Regions from separate parts of the Homo sapiens genome. Here all the other regions are linked to region 7. Evidence: fine-mapped QTL for protein levels in blood plasma. A gene starts in region 7. Each other region holds a variant in brackets. All regions are shown on one strand. Distances are between the middles of the regions.

What was found. PIP is the posterior inclusion probability: the model's chance that the variant is causal. The UK Biobank Pharma Proteomics Project read protein levels with antibody pairs (Olink). The fine-mapping took linkage between variants from a reference panel, not from the people measured, so its PIPs are less certain.
Region 1: its variant is fine-mapped to the plasma level of the PLXDC1 protein (UK Biobank, PIP above 0.99).
Region 2: its variant is fine-mapped to the plasma level of the PLXDC1 protein (UK Biobank, PIP above 0.99). The variant lies in the coding sequence of PLXDC1. If it changes the protein, the assay may bind it differently, which can mimic a change of level.
Region 3: its variant is fine-mapped to the plasma level of the PLXDC1 protein (UK Biobank, PIP 0.98).
Region 4: its variant is fine-mapped to the plasma level of the PLXDC1 protein (UK Biobank, PIP above 0.99).
Region 5: its variant is fine-mapped to the plasma level of the PLXDC1 protein (UK Biobank, PIP above 0.99).
Region 6: its variant is fine-mapped to the plasma level of the PLXDC1 protein (UK Biobank, PIP 0.92). The variant lies in the coding sequence of PLXDC1. If it changes the protein, the assay may bind it differently, which can mimic a change of level.

Annotation. Positions count from the first base shown.
Region 1 is chr17:39,680,342-39,684,404 of GRCh38, reverse strand. All of the region lies in intron 3 of PGAP3 (post-GPI attachment to proteins phospholipase 3), which reads left to right. Among named protein-coding and RNA genes, the nearest start is that of PGAP3, 5.7 kb to the left of the region's middle. The variant G/TATTTG (reference allele first, on the strand shown) is at 1,330.
Region 2 is chr17:39,065,976-39,070,051 of GRCh38, reverse strand. It overlaps PLXDC1 (plexin domain containing 1), which reads left to right. Exons shown (of 14, transcript NM_020405.5): 13 at 36-196; 14 at 2,093-4,076. The coding sequence ends at 2,212. It also overlaps the pseudogene RDM1P5. Among named protein-coding and RNA genes, the nearest start is that of LINC02079, 41 kb to the right of the region's middle. The variant G/A (reference allele first, on the strand shown) is at 2,094.
Region 3 is chr17:39,397,261-39,401,260 of GRCh38, reverse strand. The region is part of intron 1 of FBXL20 (F-box and leucine rich repeat protein 20); the gene reads left to right. Among named protein-coding and RNA genes, the nearest start is that of FBXL20, 2.4 kb to the left of the region's middle. RefSeq lists silencers at 1-25, 90-382. The variant T/C (reference allele first, on the strand shown) is at 1,549.
Region 4 is chr17:38,499,239-38,503,314 of GRCh38, reverse strand. It overlaps ARHGAP23 (Rho GTPase activating protein 23), which reads right to left. Exons shown (of 24, transcript NM_001199417.2): 23 at 2,687-2,718. Among named protein-coding and RNA genes, the nearest start is that of ARHGAP23, 73 kb to the right of the region's middle. RefSeq lists enhancers at 3,198-3,722, 3,723-4,076. The variant GGAGGCC/C (reference allele first, on the strand shown) is at 1,756.
Region 5 is chr17:39,520,867-39,524,942 of GRCh38, reverse strand. It overlaps CDK12 (cyclin dependent kinase 12), which reads right to left. Exons shown (of 14, transcript NM_016507.4): 12 at 58-269. Among named protein-coding and RNA genes, the nearest start is that of CDK12, 61 kb to the right of the region's middle. The variant G/A (reference allele first, on the strand shown) is at 2,258.
Region 6 is chr17:39,138,003-39,142,078 of GRCh38, reverse strand. It overlaps PLXDC1 (plexin domain containing 1), which reads left to right. Exons shown (of 14, transcript NM_020405.5): 2 at 2,247-2,425. Among named protein-coding and RNA genes, the nearest start is that of PLXDC1, 12 kb to the left of the region's middle. The variant C/A (reference allele first, on the strand shown) is at 2,397.
Region 7 is chr17:39,149,622-39,153,697 of GRCh38, reverse strand. It overlaps PLXDC1 (plexin domain containing 1), which reads left to right and starts at 2,061. Exons shown (of 14, transcript NM_020405.5): 1 at 2,061-2,336. The coding sequence starts at 2,261. RefSeq lists enhancers at 1-35, 408-557.

The DNA.
Region 1 (4,063 bases), 530 kb before region 7:
CAGAGCCCTAGGTCAGGCTGTTTGGGAAGGAGAGAGGAAAGAAGGGCATTTTTCTTGTCCTGAAGAAGGAAGCCACTAAAAGACCCAGTAGGACAGTTTACAAACACAGAGGGGAGATGGGGGGCTAAAGAGGATGCTGGGACCACAGGTCTTTCCAAGGGCCCTTCTGGAGGACTTGGAGCAATCTCAATTCCAGCCCAGGCCTGGTGGGGAGTCACAGCCATAGTCTCTGTGTAGAGCTCAGCCTAGTCTTTTTTTTTTTTTTTTTTTTTTTTTTTTTGAGACAGAGTCTCACTGTGTCACCCAGGCTGGAGTGCAAATGGCGCAATCTTGGCTCACTGCAACCTCCACCTCCTGGGTTCAAGCAATTCTCCTGCCTCAGCCTCCCAAGTAGCTGGGATGATAGGCGCGTGCCACCACACCTGGCTAATTTTGTATTTTTAGTAGAGACGGGGTTTCTCCATGTTGGTCAGGCTGGTCTCGAACTCCCAACCTCAGGTGATCCACCCACCTCGGCCTCCCAAAGTGCAGGGATTACAGTTGTGAGTCACTGCACCTGGCGAGCTCAGCCTAGGCTTAGACCATCCCTGGAGAAGCCCAGGTATGGTTACATCTGCAGGTGCAGAAAGGGCTGTCAGCTTCACAGTACGGCTGGTCTAAAGAGCTGTATTCAGGGCCTGGTATTGTGTGATAAGCACAGACTGGGGTGCAGATATGGACCGTGACGGCCTTGGGAAGGGTGTGAGAATGAAAGGTTGCAACGGATGTCTCTAGGTCGGAGCTGCCCCTGTAAGCCTTAAGGAAAAAATTTCCATTCACTCACCTTCCTGCTCTCACAGAAGCCATTCACTCAGGTGTTGAGCACCTACTATATGCCAGGCACTTTGCTGGAGATCCAGAAGTCTGCCCTCTGGTGCTAATCATACAATTGAATGTAAGAGTACAACTATGAAAAAGTGCAGTCGGGGAGAGGTGCTTCAGGGGTGTGTGTAAAGGCAGACCAAGACCAGCATGGGGCCATCAGGGAAGGCTTCCCTGGGGAAGGGGCATTAAAGGTAAGGTGGGAAGGATGCATGAATGTTAACTAGGTAAATTTGAGAAGAGTAAGGGAAGGCTTCTAAAGAGAAGTCTCAGAAAGTGCCCAGGTGGGAGAGAGGGAGGGTCATTCCAGGCAGCCTGACATGCAGGAAATCAGAGAGTGGGTGTGAGCTGGGCGGACTGATGGGTGGTGGATGGGGCCAGCCATGGAGAGCCTCACATTGGAGATCTTGACTCTCAAAGCATCAGGAAGTACGGAGGGATTTTATTTTATTTTATTTTATTTTATTT[G/TATTTG]AGACAAAGTCTCACTCTGTTGCCCCAGCTGGAGTGCAGTGGCGCTATCTTGGCTCGCTGCAACCTCTGCCTCCCAGTTCAAGCGATTCTCCTGCCTCAGCCTCCTGAGCAGCTGGGACTACAGGCATGTGCCACCATGCCTGGCTAATTTTTGTATTTTTAGTAGAGATGGGGTTTCACTATGTTGGCCAGGCTGGTCTTGAACTCCTGACCTCGTGATCCGCCCACCTCACCCTCCCAAAGTGCTGGGATTACAGGCATCAGCCACCGTGCTCGGCCTACGGAGGGATTTTAAATGAGGGTTGAGGAGAAAAGTTGTTTCATGAATAGATTTGCCCTTTGGAAAGCTCATTCTGGCTACTGTGTAGAGAACAGATTGAAGGGGGCGGGAGTGGATGCAGTAGACCAGTTGGTAGTTTTAGCACAGGGCCCAGTAGCTAGACTAGAGAGGTGGCATGGGTCTTGGGCATTGAAGAGAAGTACACTTGAGCTGTGTTTTGGAGGTAACATTAAAGCTTTTTAAAAATTTATTTCCTTAACAAATACATACATAGCTCATACTGTATGCCAGGCATCACTCTAAGCATTTTATAAGTATTAAGCTTGTTCATCCATAACAAGTGGCAAAAGACAAATTACAGCAAACTTACTTATAGAGCCAATTGGCTTTAATTTGTGATTCATGAATTGGTGCAGCCTCCGTTCTACAAAATAGAATGCAAGTTTCCATTGGGCAATAGCAGAACAGTGGGTTTTGTAAGGTGGGAACCAGGAAACAGAACAATAGAAAGAAACCTGATTGGTTAACATCAGATTTTTTTTTTTTTTTTTTTTTTTTTTTTTTTTTTTTGAGACAGAGTCTCACTCTGTCACCCAGGCTGGAGTGCAGTGGCGCCATCTTGGCCCACTGCAAGCTCTGCCTTCCGGGTTCACGCCATTCTCCTGCCTCAGCCTCCCAAGTAGCTGGGACTACAGGCGCCCACCACCACACCTGGCTAATTTTTTGTGTGTGTATTTTTAGTAGAGATGGGGTTTCACCATGTTAGCCAGGATAGTCTCGATCTCCTGATCTCGTGATCCGCCTGCCTCGGCCTCCCAAAGTGCTGAGATTACAGGCATGAGCCACTGCGCCCGGCCCACATCAGGTTTTTTTTTATAAGGGTTAAAGCAGAGGAGACTTCCTTACTTGGGTAGACTGGACTCTCCTGTTTTCAGGAAAAAGTGGTCTGTTTTGGGACCTATCAGTTACCTTAAAGTTTCAGTTTGAAGATCAAGTGCGGTGGCTCAGGCGTGTAATCCCAGCACTTTGGGAGGCCAAGGCGGGTGGATCACCTGAGGTCAGGAGTTCAAGACCAGCCTGACCAACATGAAGAAACCCTGTCTCTACTAAAAATACAAAATTAGCTGGGCATAGTGTTGCATGCCTTTAGTACCAGATACTTGGGAGGCTGAGGCAGGAAAATCACTTGAACCCGGAAGGCGGAGGTTGCGGTGAGCTGAGATCACGCCATTGCACTCCCGCCTGGGCAACAACAGTGAAACTCCGTCTCAGAAAAAAAAAAAGTTTCAGTTTGATTATGTGGCATTTAGCATGAGTGACTTCATTTTTGTCTGGTCTCTTGGGTCTAGTGCGGGGGCTCAATCCAGAACAATGGCCTCCCGTAATTTTTGTTTAACGCAGCTTATAGGTATTATTATTCTCATCCCCAGTTTATAGATGAGGAAACCAAGGACTGAAAAGGTTAAGTCCAGCCACAGATCACCGAGCCAGGGTTTGAATTCAGGCATCTGGCTCCAGAGTCCACACTTTCAACATCTTGGCTATGCTGATAAACTTCAAGAGTGGATTAGATGAGGAAAGAGCAGTAAGGGATGACCCCTTGTGTTTCTGCTTATAAGACAGTGATGGAGGCCGGGCGCAGTGGCTCACACCTGCGGTTCCAGCACTTTGGAAGGCTGAAGTGGGCGGATTGCTTGAGCTCACAAGTTCCAGACCACCCTGGGCAACATGGTGAAACCCCGTCTCTACCAAAAATACAAAAAAAATAAGCCAGGCCTGGTGGCACATGCCCGTAGTCCCAGCTAGTAGGAGGCTGAGGTGGGAGGATCACTTGAGCCCAGGAGGTCGAGGCTGCAGTGAGCTGTGATCCTGTCACTGTACTCTTGTTGCTCTAGCCCGGGTGACAAAGGGTGACCTGTCTTTAAAAAAAAAAAAGACAGTGATAGAAGCTGTGGGTGTGGATGAGATCACCCCAGGAGAGCCTAGTGAAAAGAGAAGGGATCTAGGGCAAAGCCCTGGGGAACCCCAAAATGTAATGGCTGGCTAAAGGAAGATGAGCCAGACACAGAGACAGAAGGAGTAGCCGGAGGGGCAGGTGGAGAACTGGGAGATAGTGTGCTTGGATTGTGCTTCCCGGGATGAGCACAGGAAGGAGAGAGGCTTCTGCTGTCCTGAATTGTACACGTGAGAACTGAAGGAGACCCCGGAATCTGGAGACACAGAGGTCTCTAGGGCCTTAGAAAAGCTGATAGATGGGGCGTGCTGCGAAGTCCAGGCCGAGCCTTAGACTTGGGAGGTGGGCGTGGGAAGGAGGTCAGGGAAGGAGGCTGTTAAACCTCTGGGAAATATGGACCCTCCTTAATACTTCCTATTCAACAACTATTAATAACAGTTGTGATAAATTAAGGAACAGGAGCCATGTGACAGGCTTGTCTGAAGCACTTTACATACATT
Region 2 (4,076 bases), 84 kb after region 7:
TGCAGCCCCTGTCTGCCCTAATGATCTCTCCACAGGCCTTCAGAACAACCTGTCCCCCAAGACAAAGGGCACTCCTGTGCACCTGGGCACCATCGTGGGCATCGTGCTGGCAGTCCTCCTCGTGGCGGCCATCATCCTGGCTGGAATTTACATCAATGGCCACCCCACATCCAATGCTGCGCTCTTCTTCATCGAGGTCCGTGTCATCTGTGGCCACAGGGCTCCTGTCTGCTTCTGCGTCGGCGTCTCCTGGGCCATTCGGTCCCTGCCTCTCCCCTTCTCCCTCTCCCCTGCCACATACCTGAGAAAACTTCATCCACCCCATCCTGGCACATTTCGAGATGGCTGGCGCCCGTTAAGTCCTGCACCCTGATAAATCAGCACCTCAGAACTCCCTCGGCCCTCCTGTCCTGTGGAACAGCCCCTCTGCTTTTGTTCCCCCATTTGTGAAATCAGAAAAAATCCCCAGAGGAAAGAAAGAAGGCCACAGTGCCACATAGTGCTCATCTAGTGGCTGTGCAGCCTATCTCCAGTGATTTATGGTCTCTCATGCCCAAATGCCAGGCTCAGTACTTACTCAAAGCCATGAGGGAACCAGGGTCTCTGCCTCTTTTGCCTACTGATACCTGCTTTTAAGGCTAAAATTGAGGGGCAGGTGCAGTGGCTCCTTCCTAAGATCCTAGCACTTTGAGAAACCAAGGCAAGATTACTTGAGCACAGGAGTTTGAGACTAGCCTGGGCAACAGAGTGAGACCCCGTCTCTACAAAAATTTAAAAAATTAGCCCAGCGTGGTGGCACGTACCTGTGGTCCCAGCCGCTTGGGAAGCTGAGGTGGGAGGATCCCTTGAGCCCAGTGGTTTGAGGCTGCAGTGAGCCCTGACCATACCACTGCACTCCAACCTGGGCAATAGAGGAGACCCCATCTCTAAAATAGAAATAAAAATAAAATAGACAAGCCAAATAATGATAAGAGCTGCCCTCTGGGAGCTTTAATTGAGGATACTAAGTTTTGAATGTCTCAATTCTGAAGAGCCAGCCTGAGGGGCAGCATGGGATGTGAGGCTCAGCCCCCTTCACTCGGGGCTGCAGAGCTCAGCAGCTCCTGCCCCCAGTCCTCCACTTCTGGCTTCTTACGAGTTCCCCACAGAGTGCAGCAGTGGTGCCTCTGTGACCCTAGTTTCTTCCACGTGGGTCACAAGCCCACCAGCCTCATTAACCCACAGGCCTAGGTCATTCCCCCAGTTTCTTAGGAGGCTTAGTCATTCTGAAGTCTTAGCCTACCTGGGTAACACCTGGGAACTGCAGATCCCTGGGCCACAGGGATTCTGATAGGGCAGGTCTAAGGCAGGCCCAGGAATCTGCATTTTATTTATTTCGAGACAGTCTCACTCTGTCGCCTAGGCTGGAGTACAGTGGCACAATCTTGGCTTACTGCAGCCTCCGCCTCCTGGGTTCAAGCAATTCTGGTGCCTCAACCTTCTGAGTAGTTGCGACTACAGGCACGTGCCACCACACTCAGCTAATTTTTGTATTTTTAGTGGAGACAGTGTTTCACCATGTTGGCCAGGCTGGTCTTGAACTCCTGGCCTCAAGTGATCTGCCCATCTTGGCCTCCCAAAGTGCTGGGATTACAGGCATAAGCCACTGCACAGGCCAGAATCTGCATTTTAATAAGCCCCCTGTTGACTCTGATGTGGATCCTGTGCTACCTTGGAGGGTTATCTTGGCATTTTCAGAGCCTCAAGCATCATGCCAGCCATCTCTGAGCCACTCCCTCACATTGCAGTCCTAGGTCTCCACTTGGTGTATTGCTGAACCTTTCAGCTGTGAGTTCTGCAGACCACACAGTGAAGGATAAAGTGTCCTCCTTCCACACTCTAGCTTTCGGCAGGTTTCCCAGTGGTTGGGGGATCACAGCACGGAACATTTTAGGGAGAGGGTCCCTGAAGGTCAGTTGTGTGGCTCCTGGTAGGCCCAAGTGCCCCAGGGCCCTTATAAGAGACAGTCTTGGTTGGCTCTGTCGCTCAGGAGTGTGGGGTCCCCATGGGGGCGGGGGCATGCCCACTGACTTTGCCTCTGTGCCTTCTGCAGC[G/A]TAGACCTCACCACTGGCCAGCCATGAAGTTTCGCAGCCACCCTGACCATTCCACCTATGCGGAGGTGGAGCCCTCGGGCCATGAGAAGGAGGGCTTCATGGAGGCTGAGCAGTGCTGAGAACACCAAGTCTCCCCTTTGAAGACTTTGAGGCCACAGAAAAGACAGTTAAAGCAAAGAAGAGAAGTGACTTTTCCTGGCCTCTCCCAGCATGCCCTGGGCTGAGATGAGATGGTGGTTTATGGCTCCAGAGCTGCTGCTCGCTTCGTCAGCACACCCCGAATATTGAAGAGGGGGCCAAAAAACAACCACATGGATTTTTTATAGGAACAACAACCTAATCTCATCCTGTTTTGATGCAAGGGTTCTCTTCTGTGTCTTGTAACCATGAAACAGCAGAAGAACTAACATAACTAACTCCATTTTTGTTTAAGGGGCCTTTACCTATTCCTGCACCTAGGCTAGGATAACTTTAGAGCACTGACATAAAACGCAAAAACAGGAATCATGCCGTTTGCAAAACTAACTCTGGGATTAAAGGGGAAGCATGTAAACAGCTAACTGTTTTTGTTAAAGATTTATAGGAATGAGGAGGTTTGGCTATTGTCACATGACAGACTGTTAGCCAAGGACAAAGAAGTTCTGCAAACCTCCCCTGGACCCTTGCTGGTGTCCAGATGTCTGCGGTTGTCAGCCCCTTCCTTTCCCCCGACCTAAACATAAAAGACAAGGCAAAGCCCGCATAATTTTAAGACGGTTCTTTAGGACATTAGTCCACCATCTTCTTGGTTTGCTGGCTCTCCGAAATAAAGTCCCTTTCCTTGCTCCAACTCCTTGTCTCTCAACGTATTGGCTATGACGCAGCAAGCAGAATGAATTTGGACTCAGTTACAGGCTGTCAATGGTCTGCTCTGTAGCAGTCTCAGAGCCTCCCCGACCCACTACCTGGAGATAGCCAGATAGCCAGATGCCCTGCTCCTGGCCACCTTTAAAGCCCCTGCATATGACACAGGTTAACTAAAGTCAAGATTGGGGCTGCTGCATTCCAGGTTCCCTAGACTCACAAGCTGGTCCTTGGCCAGGTGCAGTGGCTCACGCCTGTAATCCCAGCACTTTGGGAGGCTGAGGCAGGCGGATCACCTGAAGTCAGAAGTTTGAGACCAGCCTGGCCAACATAATTAAAATGTCTCTACTAAAAATACAAAAAATTAGCTGGGTGTGGTGACGCTTGCCTGTATCCCAGCTACTCAGGAAGCTGAGACACGAGAATCACTTGAACCTGGGAGGCAGAGGTTGCAGTGAGCTCAGATAGTGCCACTGCACTCCAGCCTGGGTGACAGAGCGAGACTCCGTCTCAAAAAAAAAAAAAGAAAGCAGATCCTCATGGCTATAGAGTTGGCATTTTAGCCCCAGCTTCTGTAGCTCTGAAAGCCTAAAGAAGGTATTCTCTCCATCTGTTAAACACAGTATAGTGGCTCTCAGCCCTTGGGGCATGTTATCATGGGAGGGAAGTCAAATAAGAGGAGAGAAAAGAACTCAAGGGGGAAACTGCATTTTTAGGCTTTGCTCTCTTACCTTGCCCTTTCTACTCAGAACCAATAACTTCTGCATCAAAACATGTTACAGCCTGCATCAAGGGCTTTACCCCAACCTGCAGCCCAGCCTTCCCTGGGTGAGCTTGCTATGCGCAGCCACATTTACCATGTGGGGCTCCCTATTCTGATGGCCTGTTCGGTGCCGGGTTTACTCACTGCCCTGTTCTGATGTCAGTGCCTGTACATACCTCCAAAGGCAGGACTTGCCTGATAAATATTTTTCCTCCTCTGAACTGGATTTTATAGGCATTAAAGACAAGTCGGGTGGCTAGAGGGCTCCTTGAGACATACCTAGCAGGGAACTGCAGGTGGATTCTGTTGAGAGGCAAAGCACCTGAGTGGTTGGGACACAGGCAGCTGGCATGGGAGGGACTTTTTTTGAGACAGGG
Region 3 (4,000 bases), 250 kb before region 7:
TCACCCACCCACTGGCGGGGCTGCCAGACTCCGCTCCCCTTTCTTGCGACCCAGAAGCCCAGCGCAGCCCGGTGCCCCCAGTCCCCTCGCCGGTTCGCCCCCCGTCTCTTCCCACCAGCGGGCCCCCGCGGGGGATTAGCTCGGGCGCCCTAATTCCACCCTCCTCCAGGATCGCTCAGCTTTCCATTCTTTACACAACCCTTGGCTTGCCTCCTTCCACCCAGCCATCACGGCTCCGGTCCACCAGAGCCTGCTGCTTTTCTCGCTGCTACCTTCATGACGCGTTTGTTGTCTGTTGAGGGAGGAAATTAGGGGATGGGTACCATTTCTCCGAGTTTGAGACCTTGGTGAAACTAGGGAAGTGGGGACGGTAGTTTGGGATGATAGAGGCTACCACGGGTTTTCGGTGCTGTGTTTGGTTTGGGTATTGTTCTGATACTTCCTCTGCTTTCCCGTTTAGTCTGTACTTCTGTAGCTCATTGTTCCTTGGGAACCCTTGGATGTCTACATGCTTTGAGATTGGGACGAAAGTTCAGCAAATCCATTCCGGTCTGTCTTTCAGGAACTTTTTCTCCTCTAGCGAGGGAGGTTTACTGTCCTGGAATTGAGGAGTGGACGGTCTTGAAAGCGTCTTTAGAGAGTAGTCATCTTGCAAGGAAGAGATTCCTTTGGGAAGTGAAATATTGTAACTACTGATGAATTACAGTAGTATAACAATATACTGGAAGGTTCCTTGAGGGTCAAGAGAAAGAAACTTCTACAGGAAGAGTAAATGTCACCTGGTCTTTTCTGGCAGAGAACCAGGCTGACCTGGGATCACTCACAGCTCAGTGGACAATCTCACTCGGTGTTTTTCTTCATCTCCATTTGAGAGATGAAATTGTAAGACGGCGAGACAAAAGTTTAAGAAACTCGACAACTAGGTTCAGGGTGTGAAAACTTTTAAGGGTTGTCAGTTTAATCTATTCTTTGATTTCTTATTATGCGAACTGGGAAATAATTTGAATTGATCCACGAAGATCAAGATAGGAAGTGTTTTGGGTGCAGTTTAAGTTCAGAGCTTCAGTGTTACTGTTGCACTTCAGGAGTGGAGAAAATCAAAGAATTGGCCTTCTTAGAGTTTTAGTATTTAACTTGATCACTAGAAGAAAATGTTATGGAATATATTATTTGGTGTTTAATAGGACATTGGATGGCCCTAATGTACAGAGCCCCAATAAAGTTAATTTATGATGGTTTCGTATTCAGTAGTACCGTAAAAACCCAGAATGTCACTAAAATTGCTGAATAGACGTTCAGCAGTTAACAGGAATCTTGAAAGGCAGTTCCAGATACTGAAGATTTGAGTCGGGGACAGTCTTTTGCCTGTGGAATTAGCTCTTTATCAGTTTGCTGTTCATTTTAGATTGAATAATTTTTGGAAAGTATTCTCTTGTATGTGGTGTAAAATTACATTGCTATTTTGTATTTTTATAATTATCTTATACTTTAATTTACAATCTCTGTAGGGGTGGCATACTATAATAAAGTAATAAGGAAATTTGTTGC[T/C]GTATTAAGAGGTTTCTTTTTAACTTGTAGCTGATGTAGCTGGCAACGAAATCTTTCTAAATATGATCTGAGAAGGTAAAAAAAAGAATAAGGTGGGGAGTCCTTCTTGGACGGTTTCATGATTAAATAAGTGTTTGTTTATAAACTAAAAGCTATTCACTTAATATGATGTGAAGTGTTCCATGCCGGAATACAGATGAGAATGGCTAGAAATGATATGTGTTAATGAAGTTCATTGAGTACTTCTTAAAACCATTTACCTCTTTATTGACCTAATTTACAAGGACTGAGACAATTAGTAATTGGCTTCTTAGGAAGTAGTAAATAAATTTATTGCTTATTTGTTGAAAATATTTTAAATATTTACTTTCAATAAAAGATACGTAAATAAAGCAGATCTAAACATTTACATCAAATGATATTTTAAATCCTCAAGATTACAGTCTGCTTCTTAAAGAACTGATAATTTTACAACTGTAAGCAGATAGCAGATCTCATTGAGAATTTTTGTGGATGCATGAAATCTTTATATCACATAATAGCTAATTTCAAATTGTGGCTACGTAAGGTTTATTTTTCTTGGAGAAGATAACTGAAGCTCTATGATTTTCAGATAGTTGATTCATTGAAATCCTTTTGTAGGTATGCTTTTATATGTTGTAACTGGAGGCCACACACCTTAAATCTCCCACTCTGGGTTAGAGCTATAGAAAAAAAATTTTTTTAATTTAAAACCAAGGGGCCGGGCGAGGTGGCTCATGCCTGTAATCCCAGCACTTTGGGAGGCCGAGGTGGGTGGATCACGAGGTCAGGAGTTCAAGACCAGCCTGACCAACCTGGTGAAACCCGGTCTCTACTAAAAATACAAAAATTAGCCGGGCGTGGTAGTGGGCACCTGTAATTCCAGCTACTCAGGAGGCTGAGGCAGGAGAATCACTTGAACCCAGGAGGCGGAGGTTGTATTGAGCCGAGATTGTGCCATTTTACTCCAGCCTGGGCGACAGAGCGAGAGATTCCGTCTCCAAAAAAAAAACAAAAAACAACGAGGGTGAGTACCTGTTAGCCAGATGTGTAGCATCCTGTGGAATAGCCAAAGTAGATGACTACTGAATAAAGAATCTCTATTTAAGAGATCAAGAGATGTGAAAATTCATGTTTTTCTTGCTGTGTCACCATGGCATTAAATGTATACAGTAATAACCCTTGTAGGTCAACATAGTATGTGCTGAATTGTGTTAATCAATTAAAACTTACCATTCAGATATTTTAATTATGTTATTTATGGTAAACTTTGCAGCAAATTTTAGTAATTGTCTTTCAAATTTAACGATGGTTATTGAATACTTCCTGCATGACAGACACTGAGCCAGATGTTTTACCTCAGTTACCTCTAGCTTTTTGTTGTTGTTGTTGTTTTGTTGCTTTTTTTCTTTGAGATGAAATCTTGCCCTTGTCCCCAGGCTGGAGTGCAATGGTGCGATCTCGGCTCACTGCAACCACTTCCCAGGTTTTAAGCGATTCTACTGCCTCAGCCTCCCGAGTAGCTGGGATTACAGGCGCCTGCCACCATGCCCGGCTAATTTTTGTATTTTTAGTAGAGACGGGGTTTCACCATGTTGGCCAGGCTGGTCTCGAGCTCCTGACCTCGTGATCCAACCCCCCCCCCCCCCCCGCCCGCCGGCCTCCCAAAGTGCTGGGATTACAGGCGTGAGCCACCGCACCCGGCTAGTTACCTCTAGTTTTACGATTCTGTTTTACACTTGAGGAAAGTGAAGGCCTGAGAGGTTAAGTAAGGTGTTCAAATTGCACACCTAGTAAGTGGGGGAACCAGGATTCCAATCTGCATTTTTTTTTTTTGACTCCACTGTCATCCTGCTTTTTTTTTTAGCATGACTAGCAAAAAGTCTATAAAATTTGTGGAAAAGAGCTTTTCCAAAGTTCATCCATTTTATTTTATTTTGTATTTGCTACTGCTGGGCTTGAGCAATCCTTTCGCCGGCCTCCCAAAGTGTTAGAATTACAGGTGTGATTACCACACCTGACTGCCTTCATTTTAAGTGCCATAACTGACATTATCTTAACACTTAGTGAGATTAATGTTTAAATATCTAGACTAGCCCTTGAATCTAAGCTTAGATTTGCTTCAGTTAAGCCTCTCCACTTTGTCATGCTCTTAGTAGCTTCTTTATGAGGATGTAGTACTGTTGGAGAAAAATTCTGTCTTAATGGGTTTATTAAAAAGCCTAACATTAAAAAACAATCATAGTGGTAACATTAACTGACATTCAGATACCATTTTACAGTTTAAACAGTGCCTGGAGATAAGAACCCATAAGTTAGAAAGTGATATGCTCCAATTTCGGTATTTTGAATCCATGTTCATTATTGTTTTTCATTATACGTCACTGCCTTTCGTATAAATCTGTAATATTATGTGCAACCTGTAACCCTA
Region 4 (4,076 bases), 650 kb after region 7:
CTCACCTTCCACTTCGCTGAGGAAAGAGCCATCAGCTGGGAGTGACCCCAATGACCTGCTGCCAACACTGCCTGCCAGTGTGCCCCTGCCACCTCCCTCTCTTCCTACTACACCTGGGGATGCATCTGCTAGGAGCACAGGCTACTGCTGCTTCACGGGCTCTGGGCCCAGCTCTTCCTCTCTCTCTCTGTCTCTCACCTGGATCATTCCCATTGGCAAGTAAATATGTGCTTTCGTCTTTTTTTGTTTGTTTGTTTGTTTGTTTTTGAGATAGGATCTTGCTCTGTTGCCCAGGCTGGAGTGCAGTGGCATGATCACGGCTCATCACTGCAGCCTCAACCTCCCAAGCTCAAATGATCTTCCTGCCTCAGCCTCCCAAGTAGCTGGGACTACAGGCATGCCCCACCATGCCTGGTTAATTTTTGCATTTTTTGTAGAGTTGAGGTCTCACTATGTTGTCCAGGCTGGTCTCGGACTCCTGGGCTCAAGGGATCCTCCTGCCTCGGCCTCCAAATGTGTTGGGATTATAGGCGTGAGCCACCATGCCTGGCTGCTTTCATCTTTTAATGAAAGTTTCCCTCAAGCCACATATTTTTCCATTTTTGTTCTGTAAATATCTCTTCACAATCGGACTTCTCACAAGAGTGGTCTACGTATGCGCTTTTCCCTCCCTCACTTTATTAGCTCATTCCATCTGGTTTCTGCCTCCACTGTGCCTCCAAACCTGCCAGACAGATAGTCTATTTCTTCATAAGCTTAGTGTCTGTCTCTCATTAGAAGATAAGCTTTGTGAGGGCAGGAACCTATCTGTTTGGCTCATTATTTATATTTTCAGTACCCAGCACAGTACTGATATAAAGTAGACGTTCAACAAGTATTTGTGGTATTATCAAATGAATTAGCCCTATCTTTTTCAAAAGCATTGTTAGGTTTTGGTATCAGGGTAATGCTGGCCTCATAAATGAGTTGGAAAGTGTTTCCTCCTCTTCTATTTTCCTTTCTTTTTTTTGAGACGGAGTCTCGCTCTGTCGCCCAGACTGGAGTGCAGTGGCACGACCTCGGCTCACTGCAACCTCCTCTTCCCAGGTTCAAGCAATTATCCTGCCTCAGCCTCCTGAGTAGCTGGGATTACAGGCGCATGCCACCACACCCAGCTAATTTTTTTGTATTTTTAGTAGAGATGGGGTTTCACCATGTTGGCCAGGCTGGTCTTTAACTCTTGATCTCAAGATCCGACCTCAGCCTCCCAAAGTGCTAGGATTACAGGCGTGAGCCATGGTGCCCAGCCACCCTCTTTTATCTTCCAAAAGAGATAGTGGAGAATTGGTATTATTTCTTAAATAACTATTTAAATAACATTTAAATAATTCAAATATTTAAATAACTATTTAAATATATCAATATTTAAAATTATACTATTTTCTATTTAGAATATTTTAAAATTATTAAAGTAAATTGTTTAAAAATTTAAAAAATTCCTTAAATATTTGGTAGAATTTAACAGTGAAACCATCTGGTCCTGAAGTTTTCATTGTTGGGGGATTTTAAATTACATATTCAATTTCCTTAGGAGGTATAGGACTATTCAGGTTATCTATTTTTTCTTAAGTGAGTTTTGGCAGTCTGAATCTTTCAAAGAATTGGTCTATTTCACCTAAGTTATTGAATTTATGGGCAACTTTATGCCCATAAATTCAATTACTTAGGGGTCTATAGCCAGGCGCAGTGACTCACGCCTGTAATCCCAGCACTTTC[GGAGGCC/C]AAGGGGGACGGATCACGCGGTCAGGAGATCAAGACCATCCTGGCTAACCTGGTGAAACCCCGTCTCCACTAAAAATACAAAAAATTAGCTGGACGTGATGGTGGGCGCCTGTAGTCCCAGCTACTCGGGAGGCTGAGGCAGGAGAATGGTGTGAACCTGGGAGGCGGAGCTTGCAGTGAGCCGAGATGGTGCCACTGCACTCCAGCCTGGGTGACAGAGCAAGACTCCGTCTCAAAAAAAATAAATAAATAAAAAATAAAAAATAACTTAGGGGTCTGTAGTGATGTCCCTCTTTCATCCCTGATACTGATAATCTGTGCCATCTTTCTTTTTATTCTGTTAGTCTGGCTAGAGGTTTATCAATTTCACTGATTTTTTTTCAAAGAACCAGCTTTTGGTTTCATTGCTTTTTTTCAACTGTTTTCTATTTCATGGATTTCTGCTCCTCTCTTTATTTCCTTCTGCTTGCTTTAGGCTCTCCAAAGACCTTAAAGGATATCTGTTTTATTTATTATAGCACCCCACAGATTTACTGATATTCCCATTTTATAGATGAGGAAGCTAAGGATCAGAAAGTGGTTAAGTAACTTGCCCAATGTCCCAAACTACTAAATGGTGGAGCCAGAACTCAAACCCAGGACTGTCTGACTGCAGAGTCTGTGCTTCTAACTACTGAGTGACATTGCCTCCTAGCCACATAACTCCCAGGCCAGGTCCTTCTACTACAGCAGATGCCTCACCAAACACTGCCAAGGTAAGCAATTTCTCAGCTTACCTTGGGCACTCGGTACCTCCTGCCTTCCCTCCCAGGGACCATCAACTTTCCCCATGGTCCAACTGCCATTCCCTCAATTCCCTTGAACAAAAACCAAAGTGGGCTGCCTTGTACAGGGATCAAGCCTTCAGAATTGCCTTCATACGTACCTTGGACTTGGCTGAACTACAGGTGGTAGAATCTGTTGGTGAAAGACAGAAAAAAAAATGAAAGTTGCATCAGGAAAAAAGAAAGCTGAGTCTTATGCACACAATTCCCTCTCCTCAAAGGCTTCAGAAACCAGGGAATTCTGAAACATGAGATCTCCCCAGGCCCTAGGAGTATGATGGACATCTGATGTCCATCTATGGGAGAGGGATGGAGGAGAAAATGATGTTAACTGCCACTTCCTCTAGAGGCAGGAAGTGACATCAGGCTGCCAGCCACTGGCCCCTCATTTACCGATGGCTAAGGGCAAGGGGGCATTGTCTTTGAGCCTGGTTCCTCTCCCCTTCCCCGCCCGTCCCTGTTACTCTGAAGCACTGGAGAGAAAATGCCAAATATCAGGTGCAGTCCATGGAAACCACCACAGTGAAACACAGCAAATCACAGATGCTCTGGAGAAATGGAGACCACACAGTGCACAGAGAGGTGGGTGCCCTACATCCACCCCCGAGCACACAACAGAGAAGAGGGACCACATGAATAATGGATAAAAGGGCAAAAATGAAGTGGGTGGGACGCAGGAGGTGGAGTGGGCTGGTGATTAGAGCCTTGATAGGTTCCACCTCCGGACCTGGGGTCACCCTGCCTCATGGGCAGGGTCCCCAGTTATCACCCAGTTATGAAGGAGACCAAAAGCATGATTTCTATGGGACTTGGGTCCCACTCCCTTAATATCACTGGGGTGGAGAAGGAACCAGAAACACGTCCTGGTGGGTCCCCTCCAAGGCTAAAGAAGGAGCAGGTTGGTCCAAGGGCCTCCTGGGGTCCCACAGGGTAGTGGGCAGGTGCGGTTAATCCACACTCTCTGGCAGGCAAGTTAGACGCCCCCCTCTCCGGACCCCTCCCCCTGCACAAGGTGAGAAAAGCAAGATGGGCGACCACACACGACACACAGGGCGCGGGGGGCGGCGGGTGATTAGAAGAGACATGGGGTCCCTCTCTGCCGTCCCACCCCCATGTCTTCTGGCCCCTCCTGAGCCTGCCTCTGGTGACTAGGGAGCTCCTGTGTGCCTCTGTCAGAGACGAACAGAAATGCTAAAACTAAAGGGAGGGACAACCATGGCGGGGGGAGGAGTCAGTGGCTGCAGCCACAAAGGGAGTGGCCCTCATCTGTCTCTGAGCATGTAAATCATCTGTCCTCTGCCATGAGAGGGCCACAGGCCCTGCAAACAGGACTTAGGGCCCCGGTTTCTTAAGCAGGAAGAGGCGGCCCATTGGGGTGACTGAGGCAGGAGTTAGAGATAAAGAGAAGCTTCTGGGCGTGGCATCGCTGGTCTCCAGAGAGTGTCGGTCCCCAGCCTGGATGACTAGCAGTGGTGAGACTCGGCAAAGAGA
Region 5 (4,076 bases), 370 kb before region 7:
TTCAAAACCTGCCAAATACGCTTAGCAAAAGCACAAAGGCCCCATTCTGGCACTGACCTATTGCATCCCCAGCCCCAGACTCCACCTTGCCAGGAGCAGGCTGAGGTGGTGCTGGGCTGCTGTTCTTCACAGGCTCAGTACTTGTCCCTGAGGTAGTTTCTTTTCGAGAAGTTTTGGATGGAGGTGGCTCTTCGACTACAACACCACTTTGTCGCTGACGTCGCCGTTTCTTACTCCACAACTCATGGCAATCCTGCCAGTGGGGGAGGCTGGAAAAAGACAAAGCAAAGGGGAAATATGTAAGGGAATGCAGCAGTGAATGAATGGAGGAGCAAAGGATTAAAATGGGAAGGCAAAGACTGTGGGAAATGTAAAGAATAAGGAAAACAAAAATAACCAAAAAAGTTAGTAAAAGTAGGTAACAGCAGTGTAAAATAAATCATGGCAGATGGTAGTCTGAGGAAATAAAAGTACGAAAGTTACATAGTGAGAAAGGAGGATCTTGCTAATACTAGGTACAGACCAGCTATATAAATTCCCATATAAATACTGTCTTTCCTTGGCATAACAACAAAAAAGGAGAACAGTATTGGTCAAGTTTCAGTAGGGAATAAAGACGAGGACAGTAATGGCTGGCTTGTTAATGTATACAGAAGGTCGAGGAAAGGCGGTGACTTAAACCATGGAACCATGTATCATGATCAAAACATCTCTGTGCAAAATCAACTTATGTGTAATTTGGTTTGTGAGGACCAAAGACTAGTTCTTTCCCCTTTCTGCCCACAGAATTTCTATGACTGGATATCAACTTGCTCATCTGTGGAGTTCAGCACTACGTATAACTTAGTCCAGAATCTCTCATACAATCAGACCAAGTAGGTCAAATCTTACTATAAATCTCTCTATAATAGGAGTTCCCAAATTTCAGTAAAACCCTTATATGTTTCAAGTCATATTCAATGTATCAACATTCTAGTGTAATAAATGAATTTGGCTGGGCGCGGCAGCTCATGCCTGTAATCCCAGCACTTTGGGAGGTAGAGGCAGGCGGATCATGAGGTCAGGAGTTCGAGACTAGCCTGGCAACATGGTGAAACCTGGTCTCTGCTAAAAATACAAAAATTAGCCAAGTGTGGTGGTGTGTGCCTGTAATCCCAGCTACTAAGGAGGCTGAAGCAGGAGGATTGCTTGAACCTGGGAGGTGGAGGCTGCAGTGAGCCGAGATCACACCACTGCACTCCAGCCTGAGCAACAGAACAAGAGTCTGTCTCAAAAAAATAAATGAATTTGGACATTTCTTTGGAGCAATCAGATTTAGAATTACTACCTACTCATGAACTAACATCCTATCCATTTTTAAGACATGTAGTCTTTCTTAAGAAAATGACCTCCAAAATTTGACATTAAAGCTATAATACTGTCACTGACAAATTCAAAGATAAAATACTTTTTTTTTCTTTTTCTTTTGAGACAGAGTCTTGCTCTGTTGCCCAGGCTAGAGTGCAGTGGTGCAATCTCAGTTCACTGCAACCTCCGCCTCCCAGGTTCAAGTGATTCTCCTGCCTTAGTCTCCCTGAGTAGCTGGGACTACAGGTACACGCCACTACGCCTGGCTAATTTTTGTATTTTTTAGTAGAGACGGGGTTTCACTATGTTGGCCAAACTGGTCTCGAACTCATGACCTCAGGTGATCTGCCTGCCTCAGCCTCCCAAAGTGCTGGGATTACAGGCATGAGCCACCGTGCCAGGCCAGATAAAAGACTTTTTATGTGCTATAATGTGGGATATGAATCTCTGAAGCTCCAATACAATACAGAGGCATTCATAAGATTTTAATTAAATAGAGACATATTAAAAGATCATATTTCTTTTATGTTACTTTAATTTTTTGAGATGGAGTATCACTCTATGGTCTAGGCAGGAATGCACTGGCACAATCTCGGCTCACTGCAACCTCCACCTCCCGAGTTCAGGCGATTCTCCTCCCTCAGCCTCCTGAGTAGCCAGGACTACAAGCATACACCACCACACCTGGTTAATTTTTTGTATTTTTAGGAGAGACGGGGTTTTACCATGTTGGCCAGGCTCTCTTGAACTCCTGACCTCAGGTGATCCATCCACCTCGGCCTCCCAAAGTGCTGGGATTACAGGTGTGAGCGACCGCGCTCGACCGAAAGATCTTATTTCTTACATCAAAATTCAGTAATCTGGCTGGGTGCGGTAGCTCACGCCTATAATCACAGCACTTTGGGAGGAC[G/A]AGGCAGGCGAATCACCTGAGGTCAGGAATTGGAGACAAGTCTGGTCAACATGGTGAAACCTCATCTCTACTAAAAATACAAAAATTAGCCAGCTGTGGTGCCGGGCTCCTGTAATCCAGCTACTCAGGAGGCTGAGGCACGGGAATCGCTTGAAGCCGGGAGGTGGAGGTTGCAGTGAGTTGAGATTGTGCCACTGCACTCCAGCCTGGGTGACAGAGTGAGAGACCCTGTCTCAGAAAAAAACAAAAACAACAAAAAAAACTGGCAGTGATGCAAACCATTTAAAACTGGGACTGTTGGCCGGGTTCAGTGGCTCACGCCTGTAATCCCAGCACTTTCGGAGGCCGAGGCAGGCAGATTACCTGAGGTCGGGACTTCAAGACCAGTCTCACCAATATGGTGAAACTCTGTTTCTACTAAAAATACAAAATTAGCCAGGCATGGGGGCGCATACCTGTAATCCCAGCTACTCGGGAGGCTGAGGCAGGAAACGCTTGTGGTGAGTCGAGATCACACCACTGCACTCCAGCCTGGGCAACAAGAGTGAAACTCTGTCTCAAAAAAAATAATAACAAAAAAAACCCCAAAAAACTGGGACTATCTCTGCAAGTGTGAGATATACATGGTCACCAGAGACATGCATGATTACAGCTGGAGGAATGGTTAAGAGCAAAAACCAGAGGGAGGCCAAGCATGTGTCTCCTGCCTGTAATCCCATGACTTTGGAAGGCTGAGGCGGGAGAATCACTTGAGCCCAGGAGTTTGAGACAGTCTGGACAACATTGTGAGACTCCATTTCTACAATTGGAAAAAAAAAAAAAAAGGCTGGGAGTGGTGGCTCATGCCTGTAATCCCAACACTTTGGGAGGCTGAGGCAGGCAGATCACCTGAAGTCAGGAGTTTGAGACCACCTTGGCCAACATGGTGAAACCCTGTCTCTACTAAAAATACAAAAAAATTAGTCGGGCGTGGTGGCCTGCGCCTATAATCCCAGCTACTCAGTAGGCTGGGACAGGAGAACTGCTTGAATCCAGGAGATGGAGGTTGCAGTGAGCCGAGATCACGCCACTGCACTCCAGCCTGGGCGACAGAGCGAGACTCCGTCTCGGAAAAAACAAAAAAGGCTGGGAGCAGTAGCTCACATCTGTAATCCCGGCACCTTGGGAGGCCAAGGCGGGCGGATCACCTGAGGCCAGGAGTTCAAGATCAGCCCGGCCAACGTGATGAAACCCTGTCTCTACTAAAAATACAAAAATTAGCCGGGCATGGTGGCGTAATTCCAGCTACTTGGGAGGCTGAGGCAGGAGAATTGCTTGAAACTGGGAGGCGGAGATTGCAGTGAGCCAATATCACACCACTGCACTCCAGCCTGGATGCGAAGAGTGAAACTCCGTCTCAAAACACACAAACAAACAAACAGGCCAGGCACGGTGGCTCACACCTGTGATCCCAGCACTTTGAGAGGCCAAGATGGGCAGGAGTTCAAGACCAGCCTGGCCAACATGGTGAAACCCCATCTCTACTAAAAATACAAAAAAATGGCCAGGCACTGTGGCTCATGCCTGTAATCCCAGCACTTTGGGAGGCCGAGGTGGGCAGATCACCTGAGGTCGGGAGTTCGAGACCAACCTGACCAACATGGAGAAACTCTGTCTCTACTAAAAACACAAAATTAGCTGGGCATGGTGGCACGTGCCTGTAATTTCAGCTTGGGAAGGCTGAGGCAGGTGAATCGCTTGAACCTGGGAAGCAGAGGTTGCGGCGAGCTGAGATTGCGCCATTGTACTCCAGCCTGGGGAACAAGAGCGAAACTCCATC
Region 6 (4,076 bases), 12 kb after region 7:
GCTGCGGCTGCTAAACATCTTACAGAGCACTGGACAGTTCCCGCATAACAATGAATTATCCAGTCCAACCAACAATCCAATTTAAAAACAGGAAAAAGACTTAAATAGACATTTCTCCAAAGAAGATATACAAATGGCCCACAAGCATATGAAAAGATGTTCGGCATCACTAATCATCAGGGAAATGCCAATTTATAAAAACGATGAGATATAACCTCATACCTGTTAGGATGGCTACTATAAAAAAAACAGAAAATAACAAGTATTGGCAAGAATGTGGAGAGATTGGAACCCATGTGCACGGTTGGTGGGAATGTAAAATGGTCCAGTCATTTTACATGGAAAACATTTTATATGGAAAACAGTATGACAATTCCTCAAAAAATTAGAAATAGAATTACCATACAATCCAGCAATTCCGCTTCTGGGTATATACCCAAAAGAATTGAAGGCCAGGTCTCAAAGAGATATTTGTACACCCATGTTTGTAGCAGCATTGTTCACAATAGCTAAAACGTGGAAGCAAAACAGACATCCATTGATAGTTGAGTGGGTTAGCAAAATGTGGTATATCCACACAATGGAATATTATTCAGCCTTCAAAAGGAAGTCAATTCTGCCATATGCTACGACATGAATGAACCTTGAATTTATTATGCTAAGTGAAATAAGCCAATCACAAAAAGACAAATATAGTATGATGCCATTTATATGAGATACTTAGAGTAGTCAAAATCATAGATACAGGCTGCGCGCTGTGGCTCATATCTGTAATCCCAGCACCTTGGGAGCCAAGGCAGGAAAATTGCTTGAGACCAGGAATTCAAGACCAACCACCCTGAACAAAATAGTGAGACCCTGTCTCTATAAAAAGTAAAAAGATTAGCTGGGCATGGTGGCGCATGCCTATAGTCCCAGCTACTTAGGAAGCTGAGGTGGGAGGATCGCATGAGCCCAGCAGTTGGAGGCTGCAGTGAGCTATGATCGCACCACTACTCCCCAGCCTGGGTGACAGAGCAAGGCCCCATCTCTTAAATAAAATAAAATAACAGGGGTGAATAGGGAGTTATTATTTAACGGGTACAGAATTTTAGTTTTACAAGGTGAAAAGAGTTATGCAGATAGATGGTGGTGATGGTCATACAACATTAGGAATGTATTTAATGTTACTGAATTGTACACTTGGAAATGGTTAGATGGCAAATTTTGTTATGTGTATTTTGCCACAATAAAAAAATTGGAAAAGGAATTATCCAGTCCAAATGTCAATAGTACCGAGGTTGAGAAGCCCTGAACGAAAAGAACTCTGGCTTCTAGTCCCCTGACCCCACTGGGAAATAGGATTATGTGCCATTTCTGCCAGAGAAATAAGAAACTGGTTTGGAAGGCTCAACGGCAATGGTTCTCACCCTTGCCTGCAGAGTTAAGTCCAAGACTCCTCAAAATCTCCCCTGAGGCTCTTTTAAGAAATCGAGGCTAGGCGCGGTGGCTCACGCCTGTAATCCCAGCACTTTGGGAGGCCGAGACGGGTGGATCACGAGGTCAGGAGATTGAGACCATCCTGGCTAACACGGTGAAACCTCGTCTCTATTAAAAATACAAAAAATTAGCTGGGCGCGGTAGCGGGCGCCTGTAGTCCCAGCTACTCGGGAGGCTGAGGCAGGAGAATGGCGTGAACCCTGGAGGCGGAGCTTGCAGGGAGCGGAGCTCGGGCCACTGCACTCCAGCCTGGGTGACAGAGCGAGACTCCATTTCAAAAAAAGAAAAAGAAAAAGAAATTGAATGCCCAGGCTACACCATAGACCAGTTACAAGAGATCTCTAGGGTGGGACCCAGACATCAGGAACTTTTGAAGCTGTCCAGGTGACTCCAGTGTATAGCTGAGGTTGAGAATAATCACCCTTTGGAGGCAGATCAGCTTGGGTTTGAAACTTACCTGCATGCCTAACCCACTGCGTGACTTTTAACCTCTGAGCCTCTGATTCTTGTTTGCAAAATGGAGAACATCCTAACTACTGCGGAGAGCTGGCATGAGGATTAAAAGGATATGTGCGAAGTGCTTGGCCTGGAGCTGGGCACGTGACTCTCAGTACACATTGGGTGTCTCCTGTCCTGGTAGTCAGTCAAGTGTCTGCAAATTCTACAGTGGCATGGTGTTGGGGCCCTTGCAGAATAACTGGGCTGGATTCCCCTCCTGATCTTCATTCCGGACTGCTGGCACTCAGGTTTCTGTCCCCTTCTCCCAGGTCACGATGAGGGCCCAGGCTCTGGATGGGCTGCCAAAGGGACCGTGCGGGGCTGGAACCGGAGAGCCCGAGAGAGCCCTGGGCATGTGTCAGAGCCGGACAGGACCCAGCTGAGCCAGGACCTGGGTGGGGGCACCCTGGCCATGGACA[C/A]GCTGCCAGATAACAGGACCAGGGTGGTGGTGAGTGCTGGAGGAACATGGAGGGGGAGCGAAGTGGGGGTGGGGGAGGTCTCACCAGCTGCCCCAGGTGTGCTTGTCCTACATGCAAATCACATATCATTTGGGGTTGGCCCCGGAGGACAGGGTGGAGAGAAGAATCCCCGGGGAGGGGATGGAAGCAGGGCCCAGACTGGGTCATAAAATCACAGCATCTCAGCGTTTCATAGGCTGCCTACTCCCTCCTGGACCCAGAGACATCAAATGGATTGTATCAGGATGCACAGCCTGACCACAGCATTCCTGAAACTGGACTCTCCCATGACTTAGGGAAGAAAAAGCTGACAGTGGCCTTATGAGTCACATCTCAGCTGCCAGATGGGGCCCTTCCCCACCCCATTTCTGCCCCATCTACAGACTGGGGCGCAAGAGGATTAATGGCTGCTTAGCCTAAGGGCTGGGCACTCAGCAGGGGGCTGAGTAGAGAAAGCAATTAGGGTGCAGCTCCTGGAGACAACCTCCTTGGCCTGGGGCAGTTCTGGGGTGCTGGCACAGGGAGGAGAGGCCTGGAGGGAGTGCTCTTCTCTCAGGGTTTCCGGGAGGCTCTTGGAAGCCTCGGTGTGTCTGGGGGTGAATCTATTAATATAATTGTGCGTTTCTGGGAATGGGTGTGTGTGTCATGGACGCTGGGTTCGCACCTGTGTCAGATGATTTTGTATATTATGTATGTGTACCTGTCTGTCACTGTGGGCTGTTTGTGGGTGTCTGTGATGAGCATGTGTAAGTGTGAGTGTGCCTGTGGCTGTGTGTGTAGGTGCCTGCGGCTGGGAGTGATGAGGGTGGATTCTTAGGACGCAAGAAGCAACAAGAGGACCTTCTTCTCAGTATAGATTTATTTTATATTTTAATAACTATTTTCTTAAATTAGTATGTGCTGACAGTTAAAAAAAAAAAAGGTTAAATAGTGCTAAAATCATAAAACAAAACAGCAGTCCTGCCCCTCCTCTCCCCTGGGGCCTGCCCCCTTCCCTTTCTCAGAAGGCTCTGTCTGGGCTGTTTCCTCTGGAGTTTACTTCCATATTTCCAAGGGATTTGCTTATACTGTACTGCTACCTCTCTGTGCACTGGTTTTAGGCCGTACCTATTCATGGCCTGCTGCGGCTCAGGGAGATTTGGCTTTTGTATACTCCCGCTGAGCAACCTTTCACCCTGCCGCCCAATCTTCCTGTTCAATCCGTGTGCTCGGTTGTGGATTGTGACGATCATGTACATAGTGTTCACTTCTAATCCAGGCAGGGTCATAACATTGTTTCTTTTCTTGTATGATTTTGGCTCTTCCTGGATCCTGGCCCCCTCTCCTGCCCTTGCTTACTTAGTTTTCTGTGCCTACCGTAGCTACATTTTCCTACACGTCCCCTAGCCTCAAATGTAATTCCAGTGTGGGCTGGGCATGGTGGCCCACACCTGTAATCCTAGCACTTTGGGAGGCCCAGACGGGTGGATCGCTTGAGCTCAGGAGTTCCAGAATAGCCTAAGCAACATAGTGAGACCCACGTCTCTAAAAAATTAAAACAAAAATTATCTGGATGTGGTGGTTTGCCCCTGTAGTCCCAGCTACTTGGGAGGCTAAGGCTGGAGGATTGCTTGAGCCTGGGCGGTCAAGGCTGTGCTGAGC
Region 7 (4,076 bases):
GTCGATTTTTCCTAAGCTGTTTGCTTTTACTCCTACTGGCAGACGAGGAGCAGTGAGGGACTGAAAGGAACTGGGGATTCAACAGCAGTGGCTCTCAAAATGTGGTCCTGGGACCAGCAGCATTACCTGGGTACGCTCGGGCCTCATCCCAGACCTAATGAATTAGAAACTTGAGGGTGGAGTCCAGAAATCTGTGTTTTCATATACGCTCCCCATCGCTTGAGTCCAGGAGTTGGAAGCTGCAGTGAGCTATGATCGCAGCACTGCACTCCAGCCTAGGCAACGTGCGAGAACCTGTCTCAAAAAACAAACAAAATACACACACACACACACACACACACACACACACACACACACACACACCCTGCAGGTGATTACGATCTCAAGTTCTAGAGGCTTACGTTAAAATTTACACATTTGCTTCTACTATTTACAAGTTTATGTTTCAGCCTGAGCTCTTCTTGTAAGACAGACCACGAGGTACCCCAGATGGAGGAATGTGCAAAGACGCCGGGGCTGGAGCTGGAATCCGTCCCGAGACTTCTCACCTTGACCTCGAGGAAGGCAGGAGGTCGGAGACAGGGGGTGGGCAGGCTGGGGAAAGAGGAAACCCGCAGGACAAGAGGGTTGTGGCTCGTCACGTGGCCACTTGAGGGCAGCAAGTAGCTGCAGCTGGAGGTAGCTGCCTATCTGATTCTGTTTGAGAGTCCGCCAAGTTGGGATTTAAATTAGACATCAAGAAGAATTTACAGACCGGCCTTGCCTTGTTCCACGGTAAGGGGACATTGGGTTTAGGGCTGGAGGAGGTAGTCTCTGGGACTCTGGGCCCGGCGGAAGGAGGAACCGGCGTTCTAAGAGATTAGAGAGCCTTTAGTTGTTTCCTTTCTTAGGTGTTTTTTTTTCTTTTCTTTTCTTTTTTTTTTTTTTAACCTCAGTGCCACGGAATCCGTCTCTTCCAGCCCACAGTGTACCTTCTCCTGTCCCCGCCCATATCCCTCCTCCTGGAAAATTTCTCCAATGGCGCTCAGCGTTCGCACCCTTCCTCTCCGCGGTTTTCTAGTCCCTAGGCCCCAGCCCACTAGAAGCCAGGATGCCCCCTCACCCCGTCTCCCACTCTCCAGCGCCCCAGCTCCTTGCCGTCACAAGAACGAAGTAGGTCAGGGGAGGGAAGAGGCATCTTCGTGTCCTGACCTGATTCCTTGCCGTCTATTAAATATCCTACATTGCGGGTATTTTTATTCTGTCCTGGAAGAAAAAATAAAAAGATTATCTATCCCCAGAGCCTGTCAGAAGGTGGTGACAGGTGGGGTGAGCCATTTCCTCGTCTGGGGCTGGCTCTGAAGATTGATTGGGTCTGGCCCTGAGTAGGCCTGGAGGCCCCAGAGAGGCAGGAGGCCTGGGTTACCTACTCGTGGGGAGGGGTCCAGACTGTTGCAGAGTAAGGGGTAGCCAGGCCCCCTCCACCCTCACGTCTGCTAGGCTTGGGGGGCAAATCGGTGCTGGAAATGGGGGGTGGAGGGATAAGGTGGAGTCATGGAAGGGGGGTGGGATTCAGGCCCCTCTTGGGGAGAAAAGCTGGGGGTCTTTGCTGCAGGGGGAGATTTCTGGGGGTGGGGGCTGGAGGACAAAGCATCAGAGACGCACAGAATTCCGAAGAACAGCTCAGGAAGTCGCAGAGCTTGGAGGAGCTGGGGGCGGGGAACAGTCAGGGGCCCGTGACCCAGGGATGGGGCGCCTGTCCCTTCCAGGGGTCCAGTCCTCGGGCCTTCTCTCTGCAGCTTTCCCGGCGGAACGGAGGAGGGAAAGGGAGCCAGGAGCTCAGTGAGGAGCGCGGGGCGGCTGATGCTTCTAGGGGTTCTCTCAGCCCGAGGGGCTCCCGCCCTGTCCCCTACTCTGCACCCCTTGCCTTGGGAGCGGCTGCAGAGCTCTAGGGGAGCGCTCCGTTAGGGCTGAGGGCAGGCGCCGGGAGAGCCCCCAACGACGCCGCGCCCCCCGCCCCGCCCCCTGCCCCAGCTCCCCCCCACCCCCACCGACCCAGCGGCCCCCCCAGCTCCCCGCCTGCTCCCGGAGGCCGCAGCCTCCAGCTCCGCTCGCGCTCTCGCCGCTCCTGCCGGCTCGCCCGGCCCCGCGCTCCGCCGTCTCCTCGCCGCCCGCCCCTCCGCCAGCCCCGGGGACCGCGCGGCCGCAGCCTGAGCCAGGGCCCCCTCCCTCGTCAGGACCGGGGCAGCAAGCAGGCCGGGGGCAGGTCCGGGCACCCACCATGCGAGGCGAGCTCTGGCTCCTGGTGCTGGTGCTCAGGGAGGCTGCCCGGGCGCTGAGCCCCCAGCCCGGAGCAGGTAGGACTGGCGGGAGCCGGCCCGGGTGGGCCGGGGGCGGGGAGGGACGGGCAGTCAGGTGTGGGCATGGGCAGGTGTGGACGGCCTGGCGATGTCCGCGAGGGGGGCATTGTCCGCAGGAGGCCAGGAGAGCTGTGGGCTGTGGGCAGGTGGATAGGGACCCCACTTTCCCAAACACATAGGGTGTGTGAGTGACGGTGGAGACACCGATGCCCGGACCTCTCCTTCTCTCCTGGAAGGATACTGGAGGGACCTTAGGAGAGGGGGCTCTATGTGGCCATGGGCTCTGAAAGGGGACAGCGGGAGAGTCATCAGGACCCCTGATCACCCCAGGCAAGGCTGAATTCTGATGAGATGGGAGCCTGGGGAGGCCCCTGCCCCAGCCATGCCTTCTTTTCCTCTTCTCTGCCACACCCCCGACCCCAAAGCTGATCCAGGCTAGGGATAGGTGGGAGCAGCCAGGGGGATGGTGGGGACACAGCGTCTCTGCCTGGGAAGGCAGCAGCCATTCGGTCACCTTCCCTTGCCTATTTGGTGTCAGTAGAGAGGCAGTGGGCCCAGGAAGAAGCAACTTGCTGCTTCTGCACCCCCAGCCTCAAGAGTCCCCCTCCTCACACCTGCTCCCATTTGCCCTGGCAGCCTTTGGCTTTCAGCTACTCTGGCTCTAGATGGGGCACTGGGGTAGGGGGTGGAGGGAGGCGTCCCATTCTGCACACTCCTCTTCCCCCCTACCAGTTCTCCAAACTCATCTCTCCCACCTGGAAGTCCTTTCTGAGATCTACCTGGAATCCCTCATGGTATAATTTTCATAGTCTCTGTTCTCCCCTAAGCACCTAGACTTTCTCTGGGGTTGGGGAGATGGGTAATTTGCAGCCTGGCCCCTCAGCAGAGATGATTAAGAAGATAGATACCTGTGCATCATTGGCATGGGTGCCCCTCAGGTGGGGTGAGGGAGGCGCTGTTGAGGTGAGTGCTGTGGTTGACCTGCTGTGTCTCAGGAGTGTGCTGGCACCAGGCACAGTGTCAGTGGCAATGTTCTTGACTTTAATGGTCCCAGCATGTAGCTGAGACAGACCTGGGTCCCTATTGAGAAGAAGAGTATGTTGGGGGTGGGAGGGGAAGGAGGCTGACAGTGGGAAGTATGGGCAGAGGGCAGTGGAGCTGACGAACCGAGAAGCTGCTGGTGAGAACCACCAATTTTCAGGGAGACCACACAGAGGGTGGCCAGAGACGTGGCTTCTAGTCCCGCCATCTCACTTGCTGTGTGACTTTAGACAAGTTACTTTCTCTCTCTGGACCTATTTTTGCATTTATAAAGTGAGGCTGTTGGCAAAATCTTTGACTCTTGTGCGTGGAATAATGAAGGATCTTTTATAATTGCCTTTCCTTTTCATATTTGTTAGGGTCTTTATGGGTAACTGATACTTTAAAAAAATCAAGGTAAACAGGAGAGAGTTGGATATGTTATGAATAATTTCTGGGCTCCTTTGAATCCTCAACCTGGTGTGATCTTCTGAACTCTGGGTGTAACAGAGTTTATGAGGGGAGGATCTGAACCTTTGGCTGGATTGTGTGAACCACGGAGAGGGCTGGGGAAGGGGGAATTGGGAGGTAACAAGGATGGGCTGGGAGATAGTGGCCAGACCCGGGCCTGGCTGAGGGCGGCCCCTTCAGAGTAGGGTTGGGGTAGTAGACGGTTGAGGAGACCAGGAAGAGTGGGGCAGGCAGAGACTTGAATCA